Linked DNA regions of Homo sapiens: region 2 is linked to region 1. The links come from fine-mapping of genetic effects on plasma protein levels. Region 1 holds a variant in brackets. A gene starts in the other region. All regions are shown on their reverse strands.

Region 1 (5,372 bases):
ATCTGCAGTTACAACATTTACCACTTTATTATAAAGGCTACAACTCAGAAACAGCCAAATGGAAGACATGTATAGGACAAAGAAAGATGTGGGGGTGGAAGAGGTTGTATGGAGCCTCCATGCCCTCTCTGGATGCCATTGGTTGACTGGGGGAATTAATTCCCTGGTGCTTCCAGCCTGCAAGATGAGCTCCTTCAACCAGCAAGTCCCCAGTCAAAAGGGTGCACGGGGTGTAGCTGGAAGTTGAGCAGATGGTAGTTTGCATGGATGAGATAAAGCCCCAGGGGACAGGGCAGCTACACATGAATCCAAATAGTCTAATCTCCAAAAGGAACAGAGAGTGGATTCATACAACATACCAAGCCCGCCCCCTAAATGCATCCCACTCAGGTCACTTATAAAGCTCCAAGGATGGGCCAAGAACACAAGCTCTACACCAGGGAAACTTGGAGGCATCAGAAGGACAGAATAAGACCCAGGTTCATAGGGGATGAAAAATCGAACAGAGAACCGTCTCAGGGCATTTGTGAAGGTCCAAGGATGGAGAGAAGAAGCGCTGGCTTACAAGTGGGTGAAGTTCTGCTATACCACAATGGAGGCTGAGGCTAGCAGGGAAACAACTATTCGTCTCTGAAGCAGGCTGCGGGCTTTTTGCAGATCCAGTAATTGTCAACGTCACATCGATTGTCGTTCCAGCCACTGCCACTAAATTCCGCACAGTCTTCATTCCCGCTATTGTTGGGTTCTCCACTGTTCCAGTACCGCTGGAAGCTGCAAAGCCCATGCAGAATGTGAGCCTCTGCCCTGCCCAGTAGATGAGCCACACTCCTACCTTCTGTAATATTGATGCTTTAACATCTGCCCTACATGTGTATGCTGGACATGCATTGCTCTCCACACCTCATAATATGCCCGAGTCATGTTGCCTTCAGTTCCTGCCTCTCTTGCTGCATCCCAGCCTTGGGAGGACTCCTACTGAGGCTGTGATTTTCTTTTTTATCCTTTGTTCTTTTCTTTCTCTTTTTCTTTTTTTGAGACAGATTCTCGCTCTGTTGCCAGGCTGGAGTGCAGTGGCATGATCTTGGCGGCTCACTGCAACCTCCGCCTCCTGGGCTCAAGTGATTCTCCTGCCTCAGCCTCCTGAGTAGCTGGGACTACAGGTGCACGCCACCACACCCAGCTAATTTTTGTATTTGTAGTAGAGACGGGGTTTCACCGTGTTGGCCAGCATGGTTTTGATCTCTTGACCTCGTGATCTACCCGCCTTGACCTCCCAAAGTGCCGGAATTACAGGCGTGAGCCACCGCGCCTGGCCGAGAGTGTGATTTTAAAATACAAACCAACCAGTCTGGGGTCTGTACTGCCAACCACCTGCCTTATTGGGCTCTTGCACTCCAAGCCACTATCTTTCTGCCCTAATCACCCCAAGGCCAGGTGTCAGGCCGCTAGGCAGCCTCTATGCCCCAGAGCCCACAAAATGCTTCATATCTGCCCATCTGAAGCCTGCTTGCCTGGCCTTGCCCTTTTCTCCCCATGCAAACCATAATAAAAGCTCTGGCCCACAGTCCCCTCCATGACTTTCCCTCACGACAGACCCTGCTGCTTCCCCAGCGGCCCCCTGCTGTGAAATGTGCGCCCTCTAGGAACCTGTGGGTAGGATAAGCTACTCACTTTGTGTAAATGGCAATTGTCTCCTGAGCTGGTGGCCTTACTAGACTTCAGACTTCCTATTAATACACTGTATTTTAACACACCTACCCACAGGGCAAGCTCCTCCTGCAGCTCTGCTGGTGGAATTCTTGGCACCTTTCATCCTGTCTGGAGGTGGGTATGAAGACCACCTTCCTCAACTCAGTAAAACCCCAGACTCTTAGTCCTATGGGGTCAGGGAGGTTGGGGGGGACCCCCAGGGAAAGCTCAAGTCAGAGTTGCAGGAACCCAGCCCGACTGGATACAGTGTCCCTTTCTCCCAGAATCTACCTGGGTGACAGAGGTGAGCCGTCCACCCATTGCCACGTGCCTTCCTGATTTAGGTCTGAAAGTCCCATCCAGGAGAAGCGGTTACTCCTGGAAGTCTGCAGCTGTAGGAAGTTCTGGAGGGTAGAGGAGGAGTCAGGAGGGAGCTCTGCTTCCCATTTTCCAGGTTCCACCTCCCCGTCTCTTGGCAGAAAGTTCTGCTTTCAAGTTAACCTGCAGTTTTCTGATATAGCAGGTCCTGAGCCTCCTCATGTCTGAGCCCCTCTCACATCTGTATCCCCATGGCATGTGTGTCCTGACATGCAGGCACGCATGCACAGCTGGCCTCTCCTCATGTGCTCCTGTGAATGCTGCATGTTTATCTATTTTGCATGTCCACATGAATTTACTCCTGACTGGGTTTCATGTACTGGAGCCACATTGGACCCACTACTAATTGCTGGTCCAGCACATCTCCTTTCAGCTCTGCACTGAGTGACAGCACATCACAGCTTGAAATCAGCCGCAGTGGAAATATTTACACTGGGGAAATTGGCAAACACAACACATCAGGAATTTTCTCTCCGGAGAGCTGGCCGTTAAACACCTGCAGCATGCTGTGGTGGTTTGCTTACATTTGACGTTTCCCCCAAATATTCACATGTGTTCAGATCTGGTTTGTATTTGCTTGAAGGGTACCTGGGACCCCTTCATTCATATCCTTCTCTTCCCATCTTTCCAAATAGAGCAAAGCCCCTCTTCTGCAAAATCCTCTCTGAGCACCTCCTCCCCAGTTGGCCAGAAGCCATGCCCCAGGCCAGGACGAGGACCCCCACCACGTGTACCTGCTCCTCAGCAGTTTTGATTACGACGAGCTGGGCCCTCACTTCCTGGCAGGCGGTGACGGAGT[C/T]GTGCCAGTTCCGCTGGGAGTTAGACATGAAGTAACAGTTTCCTTGGAAGAATGTCCAGTCCTTGGGACAGTGGCGGCACAGGCGTTCTGTTGGGGGAGGCTGGTCAGGGCTGGGCTCAGATTAGGTTGTCCATATTCCCATATCTGCCCAGCCTTCAAGCCCTTGAAAATCAGGGCCCTTCCTTGACTGTCCATGTTGGGTGGACCGCTTGGAATGGGGAGAGACCATTCCTCTCCCTACTTCCCAAGACTCTCCCTGATCCCCAGGAGAACCCAGGAGTCCTGGCTCCATCTCTTCCAGACTGGGAGAATTAGCAGCTTTAGAGCTCAGAACAGAAGGCAGCGGATTGGTTGAACTGAGTGTCTACTGTGTGCCTGGCCCACTGTGAACACCAAGTGCAATGATCGCAGTTACCCCGTGTTCTCATTTCACAGGGGAGGAAACTGAGGCTCAGGCAGGGTTGGTAACTCAAGTAAAGTCACATCACACAGAGACCATCTCAGGCCCAAGGACCCTTGATGTGCAGGAACTCACCAAATGCAGTCTTCAAATCGGTCAGTTCTTGATAGATTTGCTGCTGCTTGGACTGGTCTGGCAACTCACCCACTGCAGCCTTCAGCTGGGTCAGCTCCTGGTAGATCTCCTGCAGCTTGGATTTCTCTGGCAACTCACCCACTGCAGCCTTCAGCTCCGTCAGCTCCTGGTAGATCTCCTGCAGCTTGGATTTCTCTGGCAACTCACCCACTGCAGCCTTCAGCCGGGTCAGCTCCTGGTAGATCTCCTGCAGCTTGGATTTCTCTGGCAACTCACCCACTGCAGCCTTCAGCCGGGTCAGCTCCTGGTAGATCTCCTGCAGCTTGGATTTCTCTGGCAACTCACCCACTGCAGCCTTCAGCCGGGTCAGCTCCTGGTAGATCTCCTGCAGCTTGGATTTCTCTGGCAACTCACCCACTGCAGCCTTCAGCTGGGTCAGCTCCTGGTAGATCTCCTGCAGCTTGGATTTCTCTGAGAGCTCACCCACTGCAGCTTTAAGCTGGGTCAGGTTCTGGTAGATTGCGTCTTGCTCGGATTGTTCCTGACTTAGGGAGCTGGGGACCTTGGACACTGGGCCAAGAAGAAAAGGAACTGCAATTATTAAACACCTACTGTGTGCCAAGCCCTGAACTGAGCCCCATAGAGACATCATTTGTGAGAGCCAAGGTCTCAGTTAATCCCCTTTGAAGATGAGGAAAACTGACACCTGGAGAAGGCAGCACAGAAGGCCAAGGAGAGCCAGGTTCTTCCCCTCCTCCTCCTCCCTCTCCTGTCCTGCTCTAGAGTGGGGAGGGGCTGTGGGAGAGGCCCCTACAGACCCCCAGGGACAACATCTTGGCTCTCAGTCCCACCTCCCTCCCAGACCTGGCCACTCCAGGCTCTGTTCATAGCCAAAAGGCCAGGCCTGGGGACCCCAGACCCTCAGAACCTGCCCCTGACCTTGGACAAGGATGGCCACCAGGACCCCAGCCAAGAGCATGAAGGAGAGGAGTTGCAGCACCAGGGCGCCATGGCCAAGACACCCTGAGAGAGGATACATGCGTCAGCCTGCCAGTGTTCCCACCTGAGCCTGGCCCAGGGAGAGCCTGGCCTAATCCCTCAGCACCCCAGGACCCAGGAACCCCAGCCCCAGCCCCCTCCACTCCAACACCTGGGAATCCAGGCCCTAGCTCTAACCTCCCCAGGACCCAGGAACCCCATCCCCAGCCTCTCCCTCCCCAAGTCCCAGGAGTTTAGGTCCCAACCCCCACCTCCCCAGGTCCCAGGAACCCAGGTACCTGCGTCCACCTCCCCAGTGGAACAGGAATGAAAAGAAATTAAAGAATGTGTAAGCAAAAACTCAGTTGTATGTAAGAAAACCCAATTCCCCCTGAGGAAGAGAAAGAGGTGGAATCCTTTAAAAATTAACTGCCTTTTTGGCCAGGCATGGTGGCTCACACTTGTAATCCCAGCACTTTGGGAGGCTGAGGCAGGCAGATCACAAGGTCAGGAGATCAAGACCATCCTGGCTAACACAGTGAAACCCTATCTCTACTAAAAATACAAAAAATTAGCCGGGCGTGGTGGTGGTGGGCGCCTGTAGTCCCAGCTACTCGGGAGGGTGAGGCAAGAGAATGGCATGAACCTGGGAGGCAGATCTTGCAGTGAGCCGAGATGGCGCCACTGCATTCCAGCCTGGGTGACAGAGCAAGACTCTGTCTCAAAAAAAATAAATAAATAAATAAAAATAAAAACTAAATAAATAAAATAAAAAAGAATTAACTGCCTGTTTTTCTGTGTGTGGCTAGTGAGCCTTATCTCTCCCTTTCCCAGGCATTGTGAAGACCCTGTTTCTCTAGCTGTGCAGCTGCAAGGTCACTAGGCAGATAAACTCAAGTTGTAAAACATGTTTTTCCTTGAAAAATAAGAAATGACGTAATGCATGTCTCAATTGAATAACTATCTTTGTTTCTCGCTTCTGTAATATGCTTC
Region 2 (5,372 bases), not on the chromosome of region 1:
ATATTAGTTTTCCGTGGATGCTGTAACCAACTACCACAAATTTAGTGGATTAAAACAACACAAATTTATTATCTTACGGATGGTTGTTCAGAAGTCTAAAACAGTCTTGACTTTTTTGGGCAAGAGTCAAGTTATCAGCAGGGTTGTATTCTTTTCTGGAGGCTCTAAGGGATAATCTTTTTCCTTGCCATTTCCAATTTCTAGATGCCTCCCATATTCCTTGTCTCATAGCCCTTCTATATTTTCCCATCTTCATAGTCAGCAACAGGAAGTCGAGTTCTTCTCATATTGCATTAATCTGACCTCCTCTTATGCCTCCTTCTTCCACATTTAAGGGCCCTCGTGATTATATTGGGCATACCCAGATAATCTGAAATAATCTTCCTATTTTAAGGTTACCTGATTAACAATCTTAATTCCATCTGCAACCTTAAATCCCCTTTGCCATGTGAGGTAACATACACAGGTTCCACTGATTAGGAACTGGAAAAGACTGTTTCTTAAGGGGAAGGGGATTGGAATATTATTATGCCTACAACAATGATTGCAAGCAAAATTTTAACATTGTCTAAAAGGAGTTTGAGTGTATGTAGATATAATACATAAGACAACTACAACCTAAAGAGTTGAGGATAAAGGGATTTGATGTGGTAGTAAAGCTTCTGTATTCGAACTGAAGTGGTAATGTATGGACTCTAGGTAGAAGGTGAAAAGTTAAGTATGTATATTGTATTCCCTAGAATACCAATTTTAAAAGCTTCACAAAGAGATATAGTCAAAAGAACACATAGATAAAATGGAATACTGAAAATACTGGCATTCAGTGGATAGAGACCAAGAATTCAACTAACATCCTACAAGGCACAGGACAGCCCCAATAAAGAATTATCCAGCCCCAAAATGTTAGTAGTTATAATGTTGAAAACTCCTGCCCAGGTTGAGAAACTCTGCCCTAGCTAATACAATGGCTCACCTTTACTATGGGTTTCCAAACCTTATACCTTAGTTTTAGAGAAACAACTCTTCACACCTCCCCATACTCATATTTTAATGATTTCCATACTATTTAATTAGGTCAAATAATTACAGTAGCAGGTTCAACTAGAATTATTTTGGGTACCAAATACCACTGTTCTGGAGGGAGCCTCAGTGTGTATGGTACTGGAGATAAGCCCATTAACCACCAGCTTTCAGCATATGGATGAGAGTCAGAGAAACTCGAGAGTATCCCTACTTTCATGAGTTGGTTGAACACAGGTTGGTTAGGAGGACTTTTATGTGGAAATATATATGTGCATATGTATATTTATGTTTTATTCTTTTCTCTAATGATAGCATTTTAAATGCTACGTTATTTAAAATTTATTTCGTGTAGCTTCTGTAGATACTTATTACAATTGAATATTTTAGATGCACAGCTGTAGAAAGGTCTTTAATTCTCTGATGATTAATTTCTTTTCATTGATTAATTAAATTGTATTATTTATTTGGCATAGTTTTTCAAATTTGGGAAATTGCATATGACAATCCTTTATCACTTGTAAGTACTGAAATATTTCTCAAACTTTACAAAGTTACAAATAGAATTAAATGGGAAATTCGATAAGAGAGAATTAAAAATTAATTTAAAAGAGCTCCCGAATTCTGAATCTTTTGTCTTAAAAATTCTAAGGGCAGATCTAAAAATACCTCTTTCCCTATAGTATAATATAGTATATGTATTCCACTATATGATAATATCTATAACTATATATCTATAGATAAAATGTATATTATACTCCTGCCTTGCAGGGGGCTCAGACTACCCAGTAGGCATTTTGGTAACTGTAGCTGTTAGTATCCAGTTGGAGAATTCAGTACCCACATGTTTGCATGGAAGGTTAAGAAACCCAATTGATCTTTGTACAGATTAATACCATAATGGTTTTTTAAACTCTTAACTTTTCCAAAATGAAAGTGGAATGCCATTCCTCAAAATTTACCTAAAAATTTTAGGGCTATGTTCAAAAAATATTATGTACCATTGATCTTGAACATACATGTGCCTGCTGAAAAATGGATCTCAAAGGACACCACTTTTATGGTCCCGGACATATGTGGTGAAGGGCAGGTAGAGCCTGCATGAGTGTGGTCAACAGTGGGATGGCTCTTCTCTCTCGCCTGGGCTCCATCTCCTCCCTCTGCTTATTTACGTATTTATTTATTTCTCTCTCTCTCTCTCTCTCTAACCATCTCCTCTATGTAGGTAGATATTTCGGCGTGAACAGACGCCCTGGCTCAGTTCCCCTTGCCTTCTGCTGTATGCTGGTCCCAGAGAGCCCGAGTCCGGGTCTCCACGCTTTATTTGGCAGGGGGCGCGCGGGTTCCGGAGCTGTCCAGCACCTCCTGGCCAAGTTCTCTGCGCTCTCCGCGCCCGGGAAGCTCTCCGCGCCGGGGAAGCTCTCCAGCGCCCCGCCCCCGGCAGGGAACCTCTCCACCAGGACACCCGGGGCTTCCCAGGCTCGCCATCCGTCCCCACCAGTCTCTACCTACTTTGCCCAGCTCCACCTCGGCAGTGCAGCGTGTTTTGGTGGCCTTCCTCCGCACGCCCTGGAGGGGGAGTGCCCTGCACCCCGGGGCTGCTCCGGAGCCCAGTGCACGAGTGCACATGGGCTTCCCTCCTTTGCTTAAAGGGCAGGCGAGCGCTACTCGCTCCAGCCTTGCCTCCTGCAGCTGGGTGGTCTTTTTTCTCTCCTGTCTTTCAAGACACGCGCCCGAAATCGAGGGGTGAGAGCAAAGACCGCCCATCAACTTAGCACCTTGGATTTAGAGCTTTCAATCCCGAAAGGAGGTTGGCATTGCCCGGGTCATCGAGAGAGGGAGGGAGAAGAGCTGAGGCTGCAACGGCTCCTGGGCTCCCTAGACCGGGTTTGGCATCCAGGAGACCGTGCGGGAGACCGACGCTGAGCGCCGGCCTCGCCCTCGGCGGCCCCTCCCTCCTCCTTACCCCGCCTCCCCCGGCCCGCCCCTCCCTCCCCGGAGGAGCAGTCTCTCCGCGCGTCTCCCGGAGCTTTCTCCATTGTCTCTGCCTTTACAACAGGTTCGGGCGGCGGGGAAGACGGGGGGGTGCGGGGCCGCCCCAGCCCGGGCTTTCTTGGGGCCGCCCCCCTTCTACCGGGTGTGCGAGTCTTTGGCTGCTTTTATTCGGCTCGGGAGCTAATTCCCCGACGGAGCCGCGCCGGGGCGAGTCCGACCCCTCCCTCCGGGCCCCCTCCGGGCCGCGCTGCCGCCTCGGCCCTGCGTGTGGGAATGATGTGCGCATTGGAGGGTCTAAGTTCTTCACGCGCCTGGGGAGGCCTCCCTTTTCTTTCTTAGGCAACCAAAGCGTATTAATCCTACTGATCAGTAAATCCGAGGCAGCAGCAGGAGAGACAAACGTTATTTTCCCGCTTGATTCCAAGAACCTCTTCGATTTTTATTTTTATTTTTAAAGAGGGAGACGATGGACTGAGCTGATCCGCACCATGGAGTCTCGGGTCTTACTGAGAACATTCTGTTTGATCTTCGGTCTCGGAGCAGGTGAGTGGCCGCAGAGCTGGGGCTGGGGAAAGGGATGGCTCCCGCCTCGGGGCAGCATGGGCTGGCTGGGGAAGCCTCGCTTTTCCCGGACCCAAAGTAGGTCTGGAGTGGGAAGCTTGGAGTAAGGGGGCGGGTTTGGATATGGATTTTTTTTTTTTCTGTGCTTGCCTTGGAGACCGCGAGGCGGATCACGCCCCTAGTCCAGGGTCGGAGGGCTGAGGGGGAACTTTGCAGAGAGAAGGGTTTAAAGGAGGTCATGGAAACGGGACTGGGTGCTCCGCTATTTAAAGCTTGGCTGCTGATCTCAGGTAAGGCTCTCGGCGGAGGAGGAGGCAGTCGCCTCTCATCTTCAGTTCCCAATATTGTCGCGAAAACGCGGTTCTTTGCTGCCCTGGAGGAAGAGACTTGCATTTTGATGGAGCTTTTCCTTTTTCTCTCTCCCACCTCATACCCCTCACCAGTTTGGGGGCTTGGTGTGGACCCTTCCCTACAGATTGACGTCTTAACAGAGTTAGAACTTGGGGAGTCCACGACCGGAGTGCGTCAGGTCCCGGGGCTGCATAATGGGACGAAAGCCTTTCTCTTTCAAGGTATGCCCGGCGTGCTGCATCCCCACTGTGATTTCAGTTCCGATAACCCCGGCAGGAGTTGCTCTTGCCGCTTGTCCTAACTTTGTATTGCCTCATGGATGACAGTACTTTAGCTGAGGTGTAGAAGGGCCAGTGTGAGACACATATCCCTATCTCTTTTAAGTGGTTTTTTCTCCCCTGCCTCACCCTTCTCCTTCGTACTTTGTACTCTTGCCAGTTCTAATGGATAGTCCCTTAATTACTGAGCAGAAACTCCTATGGCAGATGGTTGATTTTAGAATCTGGGGAACAATGAATTATAACACAAACGCCTCGTTTGGGTGAAATTGATTTAGGTAGGAAAAAGGATAGCTTAATCTTAGTTAAGACACTGATCTCTGAAAGTTTCAGGTACGATGGTGCCCTGCTTGGAGGAATTGTTTTATGGGGGTAGCTTTCTGGAAAAATTAATGCCTCTGAATATTTTTACTTACTGCATATCACAGTCGCAGTATATTTGAGGCAAAATTTATCTTTGAAAGACCCTCATTCTTCCTTCATCCACCAATAACAAGAGAAAGGGAATAATGGTCTCAAAAGTATTTTGGAAAGATTTCAAGTAAATGTTAATCTAGAAGTGTATCTCATATTATCATTAATTGTGTACTTACGATTTTACAACTTTTTTTTGAAGTCAATGGATATTGGCTGGGCACAAATGTCTACATCTCAAATTATATTTAAATGTGTTGTGCAGTCAGAAGCAAATTCCAATGCAGCAAACCTTCAACTTTGATTAGAGCTTTTGAGGATTGCTTGTTTGTGGAAAGTTGCCGTAATAAGAGCTTCTAAAAGGTAGCTAAACGTGTACAGACAGACTAGATTCATGTATGGTGAAGAATACATGAAGGCAAAAGAGAATGGAGTTTGGTTTAACATATCTAATGGACTAAAGCTTCTTGCCCTACCTCACCCAGATTTTTGTTGTTGTTGTTGTTATTTTGGTGCCATGGCTTTGAAAGTGCAATTCATAATTACTAAAGAGTTGGATATGCAAAAGGAAACCACTTCGGAAAATATGCTACCAAGAAATAGAAATAAAATAAAACTTGAGTGTTTCTGTAGTGGTGTTGTTGCCTGATATAGCCAGTATGTGTCACCATGGACACTAAAACCAAAGCTTAGAGTTGGGAAAGGAGGAAATTCACATGTGTTACATTTACTTAAAACAAGTTTGCTCTTATA

Which allele goes with the higher level. Alleles are on the strand shown, and positions count from the first base shown. The strength of an association depends on the size of the effect and on how common the allele is.
For the plasma level of the protein whose gene starts at base 3,058 in region 2, C is the high allele of the variant in region 1 and T is the other (weak association).

The links. A credible set is the group of variants that fine-mapping cannot tell apart. PIP is the posterior inclusion probability: the model's chance that the variant is causal. The UK Biobank Pharma Proteomics Project read protein levels with antibody pairs (Olink). The fine-mapping took linkage between variants from a reference panel, not from the people measured, so its PIPs are less certain.
Region 2: NELL2 starts here. The variant in region 1 is the best candidate, but not a certain one, in a credible set for the plasma level of the NELL2 protein (UK Biobank, PIP 0.64).

What each region holds. Positions count from the first base shown.
Region 1 is chr19:7,764,237-7,769,608 of GRCh38, reverse strand. It overlaps CLEC4M (C-type lectin domain family 4 member M), which reads right to left. Exons shown (of 7, transcript NM_014257.5): 3 at 4,341-4,424; 4 at 3,402-3,971; 5 at 2,802-2,953; 6 at 1,981-2,093; 7 at 4-771. The coding sequence ends at 621. Among named protein-coding and RNA genes, the nearest start is that of CLEC4M, 3.7 kb to the right of the region's middle. The variant C/T (reference allele first, on the strand shown) is at 2,867.
Region 2 is chr12:44,874,001-44,879,372 of GRCh38, reverse strand. It overlaps NELL2 (neural EGFL like 2), which reads left to right and starts at 3,058. Exons shown (of 20, transcript NM_001145108.2): 1 at 3,058-3,558; 2 at 4,020-4,148. The coding sequence starts at 3,504. RefSeq lists enhancers at 1,934-2,433, 2,434-2,935.